3 linked regions of the Homo sapiens genome follow. Each later gene encodes a partner of the first gene's protein in a complex. Each region holds a gene or a part of one and is shown on either strand. Other genes may lie near its edges.

Evidence for each region.
Region 2: CEP290 (region 1) and TMEM67 share a complex: the UniProt entries of both Homo sapiens proteins name them as parts of the tectonic-like complex.
Region 3: CEP290 (region 1) and MKS1 share a complex: the UniProt entries of both Homo sapiens proteins name them as parts of the tectonic-like complex.

The regions. Positions count from the first base shown.
Region 1 is NC_000012.12:88,131,947-88,139,088, forward strand, and holds part of CEP290 (centrosomal protein of 290 kDa), read right to left. Parts: intron 4,841-7,142; coding exon 4,697-4,840; intron 1-4,696. UniProt on the Homo sapiens protein: Involved in early and late steps in cilia formation. Its association with CCP110 is required for inhibition of primary cilia formation by CCP110.
Region 2 is NC_000008.11:93,792,894-93,799,893, forward strand, and holds part of TMEM67 (meckelin isoform 1 precursor), read left to right. Parts: intron 1-304; coding exon 305-403; intron 404-2,515; coding exon 2,516-2,614; intron 2,615-3,007; coding exon 3,008-3,094; intron 3,095-4,240; coding exon 4,241-4,340; intron 4,341-4,437; coding exon 4,438-4,577; intron 4,578-6,724; coding exon 6,725-6,865; intron 6,866-7,000. UniProt on the Homo sapiens protein: Required for ciliary structure and function. Part of the tectonic-like complex which is required for tissue-specific ciliogenesis and may regulate ciliary membrane composition.
Region 3 is NC_000017.11:58,204,941-58,209,255, forward strand, and holds the end of MKS1 (tectonic-like complex member MKS1), read right to left. Parts: intron 3,644-4,315; coding exon 3,573-3,643; exon of another isoform or gene 3,568-3,572; intron 3,235-3,567; coding exon 3,165-3,234; intron 3,062-3,164; coding exon 2,954-3,061; intron 2,790-2,953; coding exon of another isoform or gene 2,764-2,789; exon of another isoform or gene 2,621-2,763; intron 2,279-2,620; coding exon 2,145-2,278; intron 1,608-2,144; coding exon 1,525-1,607; intron 1,441-1,524; coding exon 1,343-1,440; intron 1,231-1,342; coding exon 1,139-1,230; coding exon of another isoform or gene 1,050-1,138; 3' UTR 501-1,049; downstream 1-500. UniProt on the Homo sapiens protein: Component of the tectonic-like complex, a complex localized at the transition zone of primary cilia and acting as a barrier that prevents diffusion of transmembrane proteins between the cilia and plasma membranes.

The sequences.
Region 1 (7,142 bases):
TCTAAAATCACACCGGCCTAGGTTTATGTCCCTCATCAACCAATTTCTAGTAAAGCATGAATGAGTTACTTAACATCTCTTTAACTCAGTTTTCTCATACATGCTGACATAAGAGTTAAACAAGAAGCATACAGAGTTCTTAGAAAAATGATCAGTGAATAGAATAGCAAAAAGTAATACAGCATTCTCTTATCTACATATAAGTGACTTTATCTGTGATTCTTGTTTCTCTGAACAGGCAAACATTATTATAAACATTATGATGCCTTTTTTCACCTATTCTCCAAACCTCATTCCTCTTATGACCTTTCATTTTTCTGGTTCTCCTCTTTATTAAAGGAGACGATAGAATCACAATGGTATACAACGATATTTAAAAAGTCTATAATAAAGAACCAAATGTAGTATGTGATCCTTGACAGAACTTTGGATATTGGAGGTGGGGAGACTGAAGGATATTATTGGGCCATTAGAAGAAATCTCATTATGGACTAGATAATGGTGTTGAATCAATATTAAAATTCCTGAGCATGACAATTATATTGTGTTCATTGTAGGAGAACATCTTTCTTTTTCAAACAGACAAGCTGAAATATTTAAGTGCAAAGTATCATATCTGCAATTAGCTCTTAAATGACTCAGCAAAAAATGTGATTGAACAAACAAGAGACAGAGAAATACATGTGTGTGTAAAAATACTGACAAAAAGATAAAGCAAAGTTGGCACAACATTAAGAACTGGTGAATCTATATGAAGGGTATGTGGGTGGTTATTGTTTTTCTTTTTCCCATCAACTTTTAAGTTCTGGGGTACATGTGTAAGATGTGCAGGTTTGTTACTTAGGTAAATGTGTACAATGGTGGCTTGCTGCACAGATCAACCCATAACCTAGATATTAAGCCCAGCATCCATTAGCTATTCTTCCTGATGTTCTCCCACCCCGACCCCTTGACGGGTCCCAGTGTGTGTTGTTCCCCACCATGTGTCCATGTGTTCTCATTGTTCAGCTCCCACTTATAAGTGAGAACATGCAGTGTTTGGTTTTCTGTTCCTGTGTGAGTTTGCTGAGGATAATGGCTTCCACCTCCATCCCATGTCCCTGCAAAGGACATGATCTTGTTCCGGTTTTTTTTTTTTTTTTTTTTTGAGACAAACTCTAGTTTTGTTGCTAAGGCTAGAGTCCAGTGGTGCGATCTCAGCTCACTGCAACCTCTGCCTTCTGGGTTCAAGTCATTCTCCTGCCTCAGCCTCCCAAGTAGCTGGGACTGCAGGCATACAGTACCATGACCAGTTAATTTTTGTTTGTTTTGTTTTGTTTTTGTAGAGATGGGGTTTCACCATACTGGCCAGGCTGGTCTTGAACTCCTGACCTCAAGTGATCTGCCTGCCTCGGCCTCCCAAAGTGCTGGGACTGTAGGCATGAGTCACCACGCTTGACCTCTCATTCTCTTTTGATGGCTGCATAGTATTCTATGATGTATATGTTCCACATTTTCATTATCCAGTCTATCATTGATGAGCATTTGGGTTGATTCCATGTCTTTGCTATTGTGAATAGTGCTGCAATGAACATATGTGTGCAAGTATCTTTATAAGAAAATGATTTATATTCTTTTGGGTATATACCCAGTAATGGGATTGCTGGGTCAAGTGGTATTTCTGCTTCTAGATCTTCGAGGAATTGCCACACTGTCTCCCACAATGGTTGAACTAATTTACATTAACACCAACAGTGTGTTTCTTACAATCTTTATGAAGATATGACATTTTTCAAAATAAAAATTTAAAGAAAGTTTATAATAAAATGCAAACTACAATACAAATTTTAGAAGTTTGCCTATCATTATTATTATCAATTGAAAGTTAATAATCCCACTGTGTTCTGAATTGGGAAATTTTTACAAGAAGAGAAGCCAAGAACTTAATGCTAAAGCATTTAATGCTATTAATGTTTTTTTCCCTTGTCTTCTCAAACATCACACTCTGTTTCTCCTTTCTTGAGCTTTTCCTTGAAGCACTCTTCCTATTTCATTGCTTTATTAGACATTTCTCAGAGACGTGCCTTACAATCACTTCTCTGGCTTCAATAATGTCTACATTGATGATTCATAAATCCTCATCATCTGTACAGGGTCTCTTGTGAATTCCATATCCACAGATACCCTTTTTGAATATGCCCAGAAGAACCTCAAACTCAACATCTACAAAACTGAAATAATCTCAAGCTTTCCAAATTCCTCTTGTGTTCCTCCTTAATGAATGGCACTATCTACCTATTTAGTGGCCCAACCCACAAAATTAGGCAGACTCTCCATCCTCCCTCTCCTCCAACAACCAATTACATTCACCACATCCAATTACATCTACTTCTCTCACACTTGTCTTTCTCAGGCAAATGCCATCATTAGCACTTCCCTGAATTAACACAAATGTTTCCTTACTAGTCTTGGCCCTTTTCAATCCACTCTCTACAAAGTACAGTAAACTTTTAAAGTATAGATCTGATCATGATATCCTGTGCTCAAAACTCTTCACTGGCTCCTTTCAGGAAAAGAACCAAATTCATTAGGAACTGGCCCTTGCTTATCTCTCCAGAGGATCATAAAAAATAAAACTGGGAAGGCAAGATAGCACAGACTCTTGAGTAAGACTGTTTTCAAATCCTACCTTTACCATTTATAAGCTGTGCAACCATGGGCAATTACTCTTTCTGTGTCTCCATTTCTTCATCTGTATCATGGCAGAAATGACAACTATCTCATATGACAAGTATCAAATAAGCAATAATGAATTAATGCATATGAAGTGCCTGGCACATAGTAAGGACTCTATGAAAGCTATTTTCACTTATATTTCAGTCAAAATGAATAACTGTAGTTTCCTAAATACTCCATAACATCTCTTACCTCTAGGTCTTAGCAAATGCTATATCTTCTACCCAGAATGTTCTTTTATTAACCACCATATATATCCTCATTCCTCTTACCAGTCTAACTATACTTCAGGTCTCAGTTTACAGATCACATCCTGCACCTCAAGGCTGATTACGGTATCTCTCTCCAGAGTATGCCAGAATATGACCTTATGTATCTCCCTAAGTATCATATTATCACTATGTTATGCTTATTATTGACTATGAATATTCTTGAGAACCAGAACATAGTTGCCCACTATATCACTAGTAACTAGCAGCCTCTGGTATGCTGTAAAGACTCAATAAAACTGAATGACTGGTTAACGGCAAAGAAGTAATTGCCAAAGCAACCCATACCCATATTTCATCTCAAGGAATTGAGCAGCCAAAAAGGAACACAGGCCATATATTCAAGTTTTCTCTGTGTGTGACTATGAAAAAAGACAATAGTCTAAGATATAAATGGACAAGGTAGTTCTGATTAGCTAAGGGTGTGTGGTATGAATGATAAGTCAACTGATACAGGTCTATATAGAAGAACAAAAGTCCAGAAAACCACAGACATCCCCCTAAGCAATTCTACCAGTGTATATTATAAGTTAGATCCTTGATGACTATTAAAAAATCCACATGTCTGCTATGTTTTGCAGTTAGCTAAACAGATAATGCTCTAAGAGCTTCTTCCTAACATTTAAGTGGCATCGATCCATACTTTCTCTACCACATTGTTTTCATAGCTAACTTCTATATGATTCTTCAACATTTTAGAGTAAAATACATACATGAAGAATGGGGATACTTTTCCTTACAAATCAATTTATGATACATTCTCTTAAATAGCATATCATTGTTTTCTTAAAATGTATGACCCTCAATTTCTGAGAGAACAATGGACAAAATAAAATAAATGGAATATAACACAACAATGACCTAAAGGACACAAAGGTGGAAAACGTTTCTGAGTATAAGGGACAGGACAGTTACCACATGTAGGCACCAAATTTTACTAAGTTTACTAACAGTTCAGGTGAAATAAAAAACAAATAAATGTTAAGTAAATAAATAAATAATACATTAAATAGGAAGCTGAGGTAAAATAGGAAATTTTCTTCCAGGAAATACAAGTTGATCTGCAAAAAACTTTTTTCCTAAAACTAAATTCAAGTGAACACTGCAAGAATTATTAGTTTATAACAAGGAATAACGAGGTAATAAAAACTATGCATTAAAAATGTTATTTTAAATATGTGATTTATAAACTGCTGACATGAACACAACTTTTCAAAAACTATACATATATATATATATCTCACATAAAATAAGGTACAACCAAAAACAAGATATTTAATTAACCATTATTGAATATATCGAAAGATTCATTTGCGAATCTACTAATCATATAAATACATTGAAATGAACAAATATAACTTTTACCCAAAATAAACTATGGCACTAGAAAGATCACTTCTTTATGAAAATCTATTAGTTACTTGATACCAATCTTCCAGACAAAAGCATTAATTTTAGGTAACAAGTTTGATGTCCTGAGAAAAATGTACTTCCAAATATAAAGAATTAATCTTCAAGTCATATTCACTAGAAGTACCATTATATTTTAAAATTGGTGATGACAAAATGAACAGTGATATAAAACCTTAGAGATAAGTGTACATCATTTTTCAAATATAACATACAATATAAAAATTGATATTGTTACCAATAATAATAAAAAGCCAGGTAACTTGAACAGTGAAGATTCATGGAAAAAAAAAGTGCTTTACTTGCTCATTAACTTTCTTCTCTTTCTCCAACTCCTTTTCCATGTCCTCCAATTCTCTATCTTTTTGTTCTAATTGTTTTTCAAGTTGGCAAATTTCATTACGTAAAAACCGAGTATCTCGTCCACCTGCAGACTGCTGAGCCATCTTAAAGTAATAAACCCAAAGTATAAATTAATCCCATTATATTTTGAGGTTCAAATGAGTCAACAACAAGCAAATAATTATGCTGAATTTAAATTTGCATTATACTTCAGTGCAGATATTTAAAATCATATTAGCTTAAGAACTTTTTTTTTTTTAATTTAACTTACTTAAGGTTAGTTCACAGCTAATAACTCCTTAAATTTTTCCTGAGCCACCCAGAGATGCAAAGAATTGACTGTTAATCATTCTGTTGTAACCACTGGGCCACAGGTAACCAGACTAAACTGCAAAGGTTCCTGAGCCTCAGGGATCTGGAACCTGAGTACAAACCATCAGAATCTCCACCCCAGTCAGTGAAGCTGAGTGCCTTAACCTGCCCTTTCTCTCATACCATGCACTGTTTAGACCAGTGCTGTCCCATAGGACTTTCTAGCATAATGGACATGCTGTCAGTGCTGTCCAGTTCAATAGCCACTCGCTACATGTAGCTATGTTCGGGCATTTGAAGTGTGGCTAGTGCAACTGAAGAACTAAATTTTTCATTTTAATTTTAACCAATGTAAATATAAATAGCTACAAGTGGTTAGTGCTAGTGCTACCATATTAAACAGCTCAGGTTTTGGTTATCTTAAGATTTGTAGCCGATTAAATCCATTTTACCTCACAGTCTTGTTAATTCAGGTCATGGCCAAGAACATCAAATCATTTGGTCATCTAATGTGTCTCACATTCATTTCTTCACCTTATAGTTCTGTTATTCCTCTACCTTAACCAAATTGTTCTTACTCTTTCTCTCCTCCAAAAAGCATTCCATTGTGCTCTCTAAAATTCTCTTCCAAGATAAATTAATATTTCACATCCTCAGATTCTTTACTGAATCCTCCTTTCCATCTCCTTGGCTTAGCTGCAATTTGGATCCTTTAGTATACTAATGCCCTTGGAACTCTTTCAATTGGAAGGTGCTCATTCTTTCAGATTCCAAATACATGAGGGTCAGAAGAAGGTGTTGGTGCTTCTAGGTTTACCCCACCCTGCAACTTCAGGTGATCATTCCTATCATTCCTCCATCATCCTATAGAAACTTCAGCTGCTTTCTCACAAAATATCCTGCTCTCCATCTTTACCTACTCATGGTAGAAACAAGCCACCAACCTTCCAGTAACTCCGCAAAATGCACTGGGAATTTAAGCATGTGGCCCACAGATGTCTATCAAATGCCCACTAAGCAATCTCCACATAACTTTTGTTCTAGTCTATTTTTTTCTTGAATTCACTATAGTCTCTCACTCCCACACCCACATCAGATCCTTGTCCAACCAGAACATTCTTTCAATTATTCCCACTATGCCTGTCCTTCGACCTCACAGGACACTCTAACCCCTCATCTTCTCCCTCCATATCCCTACCCTTCTGCCCACCCAACCCCAATCTTGATTTTATCTATTCAGTTAAGACTTCATAATCATCACTTCAACCACTTTCCTACCAATATCTTCAACTGTGCTACCCTTCTATTCTACAGCAGCTACCTAGCTAAACACTAACACAGAACTGATCCAACTCCATAATTCATTTAGTATTTATTGAAAGTGCTTGGCATTTTCCCAGGAGCTGGATATACAATCAAAAACAATAGGTCATCCAAGTTCAGAGAGTTAACGAGTAGAAGAATCAGGACTAGAACTCAAATCTGTCTGACTCCAGATCCCCAACTCTCCAGTCCTGTCTCCAATATATTTCAAATTTTACCTAATTTCCTTAAAATGTGACCACACCATTTCCCACTCTTTTTAACAGAAGATGTCATCACCAACCCCTCAACTTCCAAGCATTATGCCTACAAACATAAAAGCCTCTATACACATCCACTCTTCCCACGCTCATCCACTCATCCTCCTCTCCTAACACAAAGGAAAAGGGTATTCCTCCTTTCAAAGGCTGATCCATTTGTATCACATTCCTACCTTCTCAGGAATCTCAATGTATTTTGTTCTTCAACAATACATTCATATTTTAGCCTTCAGCTTTGTCAAAAATTACTTCTATAACACCCTTTCGTCACTATTCCTCAAATCCCCACCCACCCTCCACCTCAGTTACTAGTAATCTTTCTGTATATTTCCCAAGACTATAAGCTCCATCCAGCAGTTAACTTCTTATTTTGTTCACAACCATATGCTCAGTCCTTAGTACTATATAAGGCACATAATAGGCATGTAGAACATATACAGAATAAACAAATAACCATGATTACAATCATCCTTATAATTTTTCCAGCCAACAATAATTTTAAAATTTGAAA
Region 2 (7,000 bases), on another chromosome or scaffold:
TCCCCAGTAGCTGGGACTACAGGCACCCACCACCATGCCCAGCTAATTTTTTGTATTTTTAGTAGAGACGGGTTTCACCGTGTTAGCCAGGATGGTCTTGATCTCCTGACCTCATGATCCGCCTGCCTCGGCCTCCCAAAGTGCTGGGATTACAGGTGTGAGCCACTGTGCCCGGCTGACTCCTGTGTCCTTTCAACATTTCCCACCCCACCATTTTTTTGAGCACTTCCTTACTTGTTCACAGTGTTTTTGAACACCGATGACAGAAATTACATAAATTCTCAATTGTTCTTTTGTTTTTTAGATTGCTTTGGGTGTATTGGGTGGGCTAGCTGTTTTAGCATCTCTTTTGAAGACAGCAGGATGGAAGAGGCGCATTGGGAGTCCCATGATTGATTTACAGGTATAATCTCAGGAGTTTTTTAAGAATATTTTTATCTTTTGACCATTCTGGATCCTTCTCATAAGACACAGCTAGAGAATAAGTAAAAAAGTTGCATTGAATTTTTCTGGGATATGTAATTAGGGTAAGTATTGCTGGGTCATATGGTATATGTGTACCTCATTTTCTTCCCACCATACTGTATGCCAGTCTATATTCCCACCAGCAATGCTCTTCTTATTTCTGCACATACTTGGCAACACTTGATATTTTTCCAACCTTTTCATTTTTTGCCAACCTCATGGCATATAGTAGTATGTCATTGTTGATTTCATTTTCATTTCTCTGTACTCTTCATATACATTTTAATCGTTTGGGTTTCTCCTTCTGTGAACTGCCTGTTTATATCCCTTGCCCATTTCTCTATTATGTTTCCAGTTTTTATTGTTTATTTGAAGAATTTTTTTTTGTATTTTCTAAATAGTAACCCCTTTTTGGTTTCTGATGTTGAAATATATGACCAAATAAATATGTGACCCATCCGTTATTTTTATCCATGTAGTCCTTTGTTTAACAGAAACTTTCAGGTTTGTTTTTGTTTTCATTTTTGTTTTTTTTTGTTGTTGTTTTTTTGAGACGGAGTCTCACTCTGTCGCTGAGGCTGGAGTGCAGAGGCACAATCTTGGTTCACTTGCAACCTCTGCCTCCCGGGTTCAAGCAATTCTCCTGCCTCAGCCTCCTGAGTAGCTGGAATTACAGGCGCACACCACCATGCCTGGCTAATTTTTGTATTTTTAGTAGAGACGGGGTTTCACCATGTTGTTCAGGCTGGTCTTGAACTCCTGGCCTCATGATCCGCCCACCTCAGCCTCCCAAAGTGCTGGGATTACAGGCATGAGCCACCACGCCTGGCCAGAAACTTTTGGTTTTGATATCATCATATCTGAATATTTTTTTTCATGTTATGATACGTGCTTTTGGGATCTTGTTTAGGAAAACCGTCCCTATATCAAGATCACAAAGATAGTCCACATTTTATTCTATTAACTTTATACTTTCACTTCATGGTTAACCTTTTATTTTTATTAAACATTTAAAAAATATTTACCATGTACCAGGCACTTTTTAAAGCTTTATGTATGTAATTTTCTGAATCCGCACAGTAGCTCTTTGAAGTTAGGTTATTATTATTATTTGCGTTTTACACGTGATGAAATTGAGGTAAAGGTTAAATTTTCTACTCACTTGATTTTTGCAACTCAGTAATAGGTATTTCCGTTTTGTTGATGAAGAACATGAGAAAGGTTACATGGTAGCTTTAACCAAAGTATCTTTCTGATTCCAAAGCCAGTGGGCTAAGGAATCAGCAGGGGTACTTGATTTACTACTTGGGATAGTCCAGAAAGGCTTCCCAGAGAAATGAACTTTAAGTGGGATTATCTGTTCATTCTATAATAGTCACTGAGGCTCTATTGTCTAAGTGTCTGGCACTCTACCAGGAGCTGGAGAATGTGTTAGTGAGCAAAGACAGACATAGTCTGTGCTCTCAGAAATCATGAGAACTTACCAGAGAGGGGAAGAGAAGAATATTTGGTAAAACAATGCCCATTTTATTCCAGAAAGTATTTGAGATGAACGTATGGAGTGGTTAGTCATTGACTACATGGCTGGAACTGGCAGATGAGGCTAAAAAGTTAATTTTGGCCCATATTGTGAAAGACCTTGTGGATCAGGAATTTATATTGCAATGAGGAGTTGTTCATTTTTAACAAGGGGAGTGACACAATCCAATTTACATCTTAGAAAACTAACTCTGGTGGTAGTGTGGAGGAGAGATTAGAGGGGAGGATTCCCAACTAAGAGAAAATTAGGAAGCAGTTCAATTTTCTTAGATAGTGAAAGATGAGAAGAGTTGAAAGAAGAGGCTACCAGGAACGGCCAGAAAGGTAAGGAGCCAAAAGGTAGCAAGGAGGAGGAAGCAGGTGGTCTTTATAGCTGGATCATATGGGGATATGTGAAACAAGGCTTCAGGCTTAAGAAATGGAGTGGATGATGTATAAAAGTGGTAGTGTTACTAAAAGTGGTATATACATGGAGTCTTAAACAGCTGTAATTCTTTTTTTTAAATTGCAGACAGTTGTGAAATTCTTGGTGTACTATGCTGGTGATCTGGCCAATGTTTTCTTTATCATCACAGTGGGAACAGGTCTTTACTGGCTTATTTTCTTCAAAGTGAGTGAGTTTCTGAATTTTCCCCAACTGCCAATATCTGAATAGTTGAAAAGCTTTCTTTATAAAGGAACTATTTTTATTTGAGAGAATTTTTGATCAACAGTATTAAGAAAAGTTCCCAACTCCCCATTCCTTGAGTGTGCTGAGCTTATCGATTACATCACTATCTTCCTCTTTTATGCTTTCTTTGGTTTATAAATTGTGCTTAGTAAAAACCTTGTTCAATTGGAAGACTTAGGTGGGAGGATCCTGTGAGTCCAGAATCAAGTCCTGCCCGGGCAGCATACTGAGACCCTCCTTTCCCAAAAAAAAACAAAAACGAAAACAAAAAACAAACAAACAAACAAAAAAAACTGTGTGTGATAATATTTAATCAAGTAATTTTTATTATAGGCACAGAAGTCTGTGTCTGTTTTGCTGCCAATGCCAATTCAGGAAGAACGTTTTGTCACTTATGTTGGATGTGCCTTTGCTCTGAAGGTAAGTTTTAAAGGACAGGTTACCAAATTTAAAAGGCCTGCTAATGAACTAACAAGTCTTTAAAATTAAAATGCTTTCAAAAATCTTTGGCGTGAAATTCACTTTGGTTTTGAAAGAAAGCATTAATTATTTTATGTGGTAAATTTACTTTTATTTATAGTAGATGCTCAGTCTGAAACTCTGCCTTAAATATTTTTTTCAAAGAAGCCATGAATTTGTATGGCTTATTTGATAAAATGATATTTCAGTATATAACTTTCTTTAAAGTCTGATGATACATTCACAATGGGACAAAATGTCTTCAGGCATGAATTTTGTCTCCATTAATCAAGGGTAAAAGGTACCACTCTGGATAAAGTGTTGAGATCTTAAAAGTTGTTTTGTCTGTCTCCAGATTCCTTTGCTCCTTTCTTCCTATGGCCCCCCAATCCCCAACTCAGTGTTCTCCATCAATGTAGGTGAATCTCTTTATATGCCTGTTGGTAGTCCTTATCCTATTTTACTGTGAGTGTTAAGTGTCTGCTTTTTCCACTGACTGGGAGCTTCTTGAGGTGAAGTATCTCATACTTAGATTTTTATCCTTTATTTGATGAATAATGCAGCAACTAGAAAGAATGCCTCAGTTTAAACATATTGCTTGTATAAATAAGAAAGATGTGTTTCAACAGCACATTCTTTAAAAATCAGAAATCTGAATAGCAGAAATAGAAAAAAAAGACAGTAAGAGCATTCGAAAACTTTAATTAGGAAAAACAAACTATAGTTGAAAATATCTTTACTTATAAAGAAGTCAGCTGATCTACAAAACAAAGTGTGCTTCTAGAATCTTTGGGAAAGAGTCAATTATATAAGTCCCTATGTGAGGAGGAGGAAAAATGTCTCCTCTTTTCATATTCCTATTTTAAAGAAAGAAAGAAAAAGGGAAGGTAAATTAAGATGTATATGAAAATTCTGTGAATTTGATGATTCCAGGTTATCTGATGAGCTTCTAATGATTCCTTAGTGGTATTATAACTTCATGTGAATTCACTCATAAAATTATATGTTCTTGTGATAACAGTATGTTTCTTAAAGAGTCAATATTGGTTTTATAAGCAGACTTAACGCTGGTACTTTTTCAGGTGTTTTATTATATGTCATTCTCAGGCACTACAATTTTTGCATAAGCTCATATCCCAGATTACAATAGATGTATTCTTTATTGATTGGGAGCGACCTAAAGGAAAGGTTCTTAAAGCTGTTGAAGGTAACTGAAATAAAAAATATTTGTACCAAAATTCTTTTGCTACCCTTGCAGAGCAAAGGAGGTAAAACTCTTTTACTCATTTTATTTTCCTGACCAGGTGAGGGTGGTGTACGAAGTGCCACTGTTCCTGTAAGCATATGGAGAACATATTTTGTAGCAAATGAATGGAATGAAATTCAGACTGTGAGAAAAATTAATTCACTCTTTCAAGTACTTACTGTCCTCTTCTTTTTGGAGGTATAAACTGTTTGATGTGATTATATGCGACTTACATGTACCTTATAAATATTAAACTAATATAATTCCAACTAAGTTTTCATGACAGTGGAAGATTTCTCTAAAGGTTGAAATATTGTTGTGAAGCCATTAAAAAGGAGTACCTTTATGTTACGTATTTTACCACAATTCTTTTTTTAAGTTTACCATCTTAAGCATTTTTAAGTGTAGAGTTTAATAGTGTTAAGTTGGCCAGGCACAGTGGCTCATGCCTGTAATCCCAACACTTTGGGAGGCTGAGGCAGGCGGATCACCTGAGGTTGGAAGTTCAAGACCAGCCTGGCCAACATGGAGAAACCCCGTCTCTACCAAAAAATACAAAATTAGCTGGGCATGGCGGCACATGCCTATAATCCCAGCTGCTCGGGAGGCTGAGGCAGGAGAATTGCTTGAACCCGGGAGGCGGAGGTTACAGTGAGCCGAGATTGCACCATTGAACTCCAGCCTGGGCAGAAAGAGCAAAACTCCATCTCAGAAAAAAACAAACAAACAAAAAGTAGTGTTACGTACATTCACATTGCCACGCAAAATCATCATCACCATTCATCTTAGAACTCTTCATCTTGCAAAACTGAAACTCTATACCCCTTAAACAACTCTGTACCCATTCCCTGCTACACCTAACCCCAGGCAACCACCATTCTATAATACTTTCTGTCTCTGTGTGTTTGACTGCTCTAGGTGTAAGGAGTAGCTTTAAAACCACTGGTTTGTATCAGAATCCCTTGGGGATCTTTTGTAAAATACCTATGCTCAGGCTCACCCTTAGAGACTATGTGTTGATTTAGTAGCTTTGAGGTAACTCCAGGTATCTATATTTTGAAAAAGCTCCCTACCCCCGATCCATATTCTCCCCTGCATTAGAATCACTATTATAAGTTTGATATTTTTCAACAAATTTGTATTGAACACTTACTGTAGACTATGTTCTGTGCTAAGAGCTGGGGCTACACTGAACAAAACACAACATGTTTGTGATACATATGCAGTTATTTCATGGATTTGGTTGGAATTATTAAAGGAAGTATTCAGTACTGAGTATAAGACTGAACATGGAAACAGTTTATATGGGAATAGGTTTTCTCAGGAATTATCTGCTTAATTAAGATTGAATATAAATCATTAACTCTTAGGTCTGTCTGTCTGCCTTCCCTCTTTTTTCTTCTTTCTTTCCATTCTCTTTCCCCTTTCCCTTCCTTTCCTTTTATAAAACTAGTAGAAGAATGTTTGTATCCCTAGGGCTTTAAAATAATATGAACAAGACTTCCAAAGTTCACTTGAAGTGGTATTTTGGTTTTTCTTAAATGGACAGATAAAAATTACATATGTTTATAGTTTACAATACAGTGTTTTGATATATGTATTCATTGTGGAATGGCTAAATCAAGCTAGTTTATCTGTTACCTCACATCTTTTCTTTTTGTACTAAAGTAGTGTGTGTGTGTGTGTGTGTGTGTGTGTGTGTGTGTGTGTGTTTAAGAGTTTCCTCAGCTTTAAAAGGTGTTATGTGAAAAAGTTTTATGGTCAAGTAAGTTTGGAAAATATTGGATTCAGTATAATCATGTAGCACCTTTTACTGTAAAACTTCTCAGAGCCTTTATTCTACAAGGGTGGGAGGCATGGAGGTGAGTGTAATGGATGGACCAAAAGTATTTAAACATAGATTCTTTTTTCAAGAACTTATGTCCTTTAGAAGACATTTTGTAATATACTGTTTTAAAGTATAAAAATGTTTAGTACAGTGCCTGGCACATGTCAAATACTCATGAAATACTACTTGTTGGTTTCACTCATTGGTAGTTTACTGATGAAAGTTTTATCCTTTTAATTAAATTTTTAGTCTTGTCAGTGTGTATGACAATAAGGTTATATTTGGCCCTTAGTCATATTGAGAAGAATGCCAAATGAGCTAACTAAATATTGTGTAATAAATACTTTGTAGTTAAAATACTATATAATAATTATTTTTATCTAGATTTTCTACTGTTTATACAAACTTAGATATTTTAGTTTTTCAAGGTGAGTAGGGAGAGGTTTTCTGTTTTCAGTCTAGAGTAGTTTTCTTTATCCATGTCCGTTTAAATTACTACTTTTCCTTTTTACTCCAGGTTGTGGGATTCAAGAACTTAGCATTAATGGACTCATCTTCTAGTCTTTCTAGAAACCCACCTAGCTACATAGCTCCTTATAGCTGCATTTTGAGATATGCAGTGTCTGCTGCTCTTTGGCTAGCCATTGGAATTATACAGGTAAGGAATTATACAGGTAATATTACTTCTAAGTAACATTGCTTCTTTATAACTCTGCCTAATTACTGATTATCATCAAATATTGACCACATCCTTCTTTCTGTAGCAGAAAGAAGGTGACAAGAACAATAGCTA
Region 3 (4,315 bases), on another chromosome or scaffold:
AATCAGCGCCACGTGCAAAGGCTTGGGAGCCAAGCCATGTGGTCTTGCACCCCAGGCAAGAAAAGTCAGCTGGAGGGTTTACAGCACTTTCTACTGTTTCCCAGCCCTCCCTCCCCTCCCTCACCATGACTAAGAGACCACTCGGTCCTAGCCTCCAGACACCCCACAATACTCCTCTGAGCCTGAGGCCAGGCAGCATGCTCTGCTTCTACCAATAAAGCACTGCTAAGGGCAGGGGCTGCTGTTTCTGTGTTGGGCTAGGGAAGACGTGGCCTCAGTTCCATGCTTTGCTCCAGATGTTTAAGAGAAGTGCTGTTAACACGCAAGCTGGCACAACCATCTAAGCCTCTCCTGGGGGCTGAATTAGGAGAGCCCAAAGAAACACTGTGGAGTAGGGAAAGGCAGAAAAGGGGAAGGGCAGACATGGTAGGGGCCCCGACATTAAGAACACCCTAGCCATACCAGCAACCTGAGCAGACAAACAGCCAACAGAACATCAGTCAAAATAAAAGGGGTTTATGTAACAAAAAACAAAAAAACAAACAAACAAAAAAACACAGTAAAAGATACCACCCAGCTAGCAGAAAGGACTCAGCACTGCCTTCAGCCTTCACTTACTCAGAAATAACTCATATCTCAACCTCAGCAAGCCCCAAGCAGTAGAATGAGGCTTCCCTGGAAAGAGGCTGAGACTCACAGGCTGGGGATTTAAGACCCTCTCACCGTCCACCTTCCTTCCTTCTTTGGTCTTGGAAGATGAAAGGCTCCATTTTTAAAGGGTGGAGAACAGCAGATCCCCTGCTACTGTGAGACAAGCCAGAAAAGTGAGTCAAGGCCAGACTCACTATGGGGTCACCCCAAACAGCTTCAGATCAAAAAGCCTGCCTTGCTGTGATGCCCATTGACAGTGGCTGCAAATATAAAGGGGGGGCCACAGGGTCTCTGGCTTTATTTCCACAGGGTAGGGAGAAGACCCTGCAGAAGGCTAGGCAGAGGGGCCAGCCGGGAATTTCCCAGCTTTTCTGGTTCTCAGCAGACCAACGTGGTCTCTAATCAGAAAGACGAAGAGGCAGGAGAGCACTGGCCTCAGATATCCCCCATCTTGTCCTCTTGCACTGTGGGCCAGGGCTGCTGTGAGCTAGGAGACCAGGGTTCCAGAGGGGCTCACTAGGTCCTGCGGGAGGCTTTCCCGGGCCTCCTGCATGCGGCGCCGGGCTCGACGGAAGGCCTCTGTAAGGAAAGGAGATATGCTATTTGGCTGCCATATGGTATTTCTCTCTGCACTGCAGAGAGAAACAGGCCCATGCTGACCTGGGGTGGCCAGCTGGGGGAGGGGACATACCTAGCACATTGTGAATGGAACTCTGCTGGCTGAACCCTTCCAGACGGTCCAACACACTCCGCATCCTTTTCTGAAGGGAGCTCGATTCCATGAAGGCCCTGCAGGGAGGCCAGCCACATGGTTACGGCTGTCTCCACCCCTCAGGGCTAAGGTGCCCTGAGGCAGAGGGCCAAGTCACTCACCTGGACTGCTGCAGACAGTGCAAGCGGAAGGTGACAGTGCCTGTGGTCTCTGTGCGGAGTCCAAAGCGGCTCAGGCGTTCCCCCTGTGGCATGCCATTGGGACAGCCTCAGGTTTCTGCTCTCTCTAGACACCCCCGCACCATGCTGGCCTCACCCCCATTCTTATTCCCATTCTTGGGAAGCGCAGTTCTGTTGGGGAAACCTTATTCCATCACCCAGACTCTATTACCTCAAGGCTAATACTGGGCTATTGGGCTCCCCCAACTAAACCAGGGAACATTCCAACCTCATTTGAGAAGCGGCGGTCTTATATGCTTACTGTGAATCCTCCCCACATCTGATTACTGAGGCCTTCAGTGATGGGGGAAAGAGCCAGTTATTCTGATGGGAACCAGGGGAAATCTCTAATTATACTATTTTCCAGAGACCTCCTACGATAGCAGTGTAGATATTGGAACCTGATTCAAAATGTGGTCATGACTTCCAGCTTAAGCCACAGGAAGGAAGGGGTTAATACTGAAGCAATGCACAACTAAGGGGTCTTGACCCAGATCCCACCTCCTACAGAAGGACAGGACCATAAGTTCTCAGCGTGAAGTCACTCCAAAGACAAAAGTCACCTTGAAGGATCCTGGTATCCGTACATAGGAGAGGTCCTCCAGTTCCAGAGAACCGCCAATGAAAAACCTCCTCAGCTCAGCCACCGTGCCAAGCTCCACAGGTCTCCACGTGGAGACTGTCAGGGTGTGTGAGCCTGCGCAAGGGAAGAGAAGACTGGGGCCAGGTCCAGAAAGGGCATGTGGCCCCTCACTGACTCCCCAGCAATGACACAGGCCTAGACTCAGCTAAAACACCTGGTCTGGTGATGACCTGGCCTCTGGTGCAGGTTATCATGGTTACCCATAGCACCTGTATGGAAATCAATCAGGGAGAAATTCAAATTTCCGCTCTGCCAGTTATTACCTGCATACCCAGGACAGGTTTCTTAACCTCTCTGAAGCTCATTCTCCTCATCTAGTAAAATGGAAATAATACCACCTGCACCTCACAGAGTGACTGGGAGAATTAAGTGAGAAGTATGGCACAATGCCTGGCACACAGTAAAAGACAGATGCTTTTATTCCAAACTGAATGCTGATTCATTCAATACACATATGCTATGAGCCAATTTTGCCATACAGCTTCTCACCCTGAGTCCAATCAGAGGAGCATGAAGCACATGGAGAGACTGTCAGGAAGTCAGTGCCAAGGCCACGTCATTGTCGCTAATGGAGGGGGGCAGAAAGTCCTCAGAGGAACAGGAACTCTTTCAAGCCAAACATTTCCAATTCCCAATTATCTCCACCCCTCACCAGAAGCATTCGAGTGTTAGTCTTGTTCTTAGGGCCTAGGGCATGTGGGCCACAGAAGGGCAGAGACGAGCGGTTACCTGGAGTGGCAGGCAGCACCACAGCCCCATAGCCTTCCACACGGTACCTCTGCCAGAAGTCCAGCGAGAGGACCTCACAGTAGAGCACAGGCCACTCCGGGAGTGCATCTGGGAGCAAGGAGAGAAGCGGCCAGGTCACAGGCGGCCTTCACCAAGAGACAGCACTGCTTGAGGGGAACCAAGGCCCAGGATCAACTGCTGAGCTACTCACCAGAAGATTCATCCTCATGGAGGAAGAAGGCTTCAAACGTGAATGGGTAGGAGAAGTGAGCCACCTTGTCCTATAAAAAGGAGTGTCATAGGGTGGGCAAGGCCTCCCTTGGAATCTGTTCTCCTTGTGGCCAATGACAAGGTTATCTTCACAAGGGAAAAAGAAAAATTATCACCCAGGTGGGAAATAGGAGTCTGAGATGCAAAAGGACACCCAAATACAAGCTGCTGCCATGCTCAAAAAGACAGACAGGATCTCCGGACCAGGTGGCCCTGTAGAACCCACACACAAGTCACCCAACTCTGGAATCCTCCCCAGGGCGCACAGCACTTGGCCTGATAAAACCTCAAATGCCATCCCAGGAGCAGATCTCATTCCCTTCCAGATACCCGCTCTCATTCTCCATACCATTGCCAGGGACTTGGTGGTGCAGGTCTGTGTTACTCCTGAGAGCTGCTGGAATGCTGGGCTTGACCAGTCTGAAAGCCAAAGACCAAATATAGTAAGCTCGCCTGGGAGGAAAGCAAGTCATTCAGAAAAAGACAGTTTCTTTTTTCTTTTCTTTTTTTTTTTTGTATTTATTGATCATTCTTGGGTGTTTCTCGGAGAGGGGGATGTGGCAGGGTCATAGGATAATAGTGGAGAGAAGGTCAGCAGATAAACACGTGAACAAAGGTCTCTGGTTCTCCTAGGCAGAGGTCCCTGCGGCCTTCCACAGTGTTTGTGTCCCTGGGTACTTGAGATTAGGGAGTGGTGATGACTCTTAAGGAGCATGCTGCCTTCAAGCACCTGTTTAACAAAGCACATCTTGCACCGCCCTTAATCCATTTAACCTTGAGTTGACACAGCACATGTTTCAGAGAGCACGGGGTTGGGGGTAAGGTTATAGATTAACAGCATCCCAAGGCAGAAGAATTTTTCTTAGTACAGAACAAAATGGAGTCTCCTATGTCTACTTCTTTCTACACAGACACAGTAACAATCTGATCTCTCTTTCTTTTCCCCACATTTCCCCCTTTTCTTTTTGACAAAACCGCCATCGTCATCATGGCCCATTCTCAATGGTCGCTGTCTCTTCGGAGCTGTTGGGTACACCTCCCAGATGGGGCGGCCGGGCAGAGGCGCTCCTCACTTCCCAGACGGGGCGGACA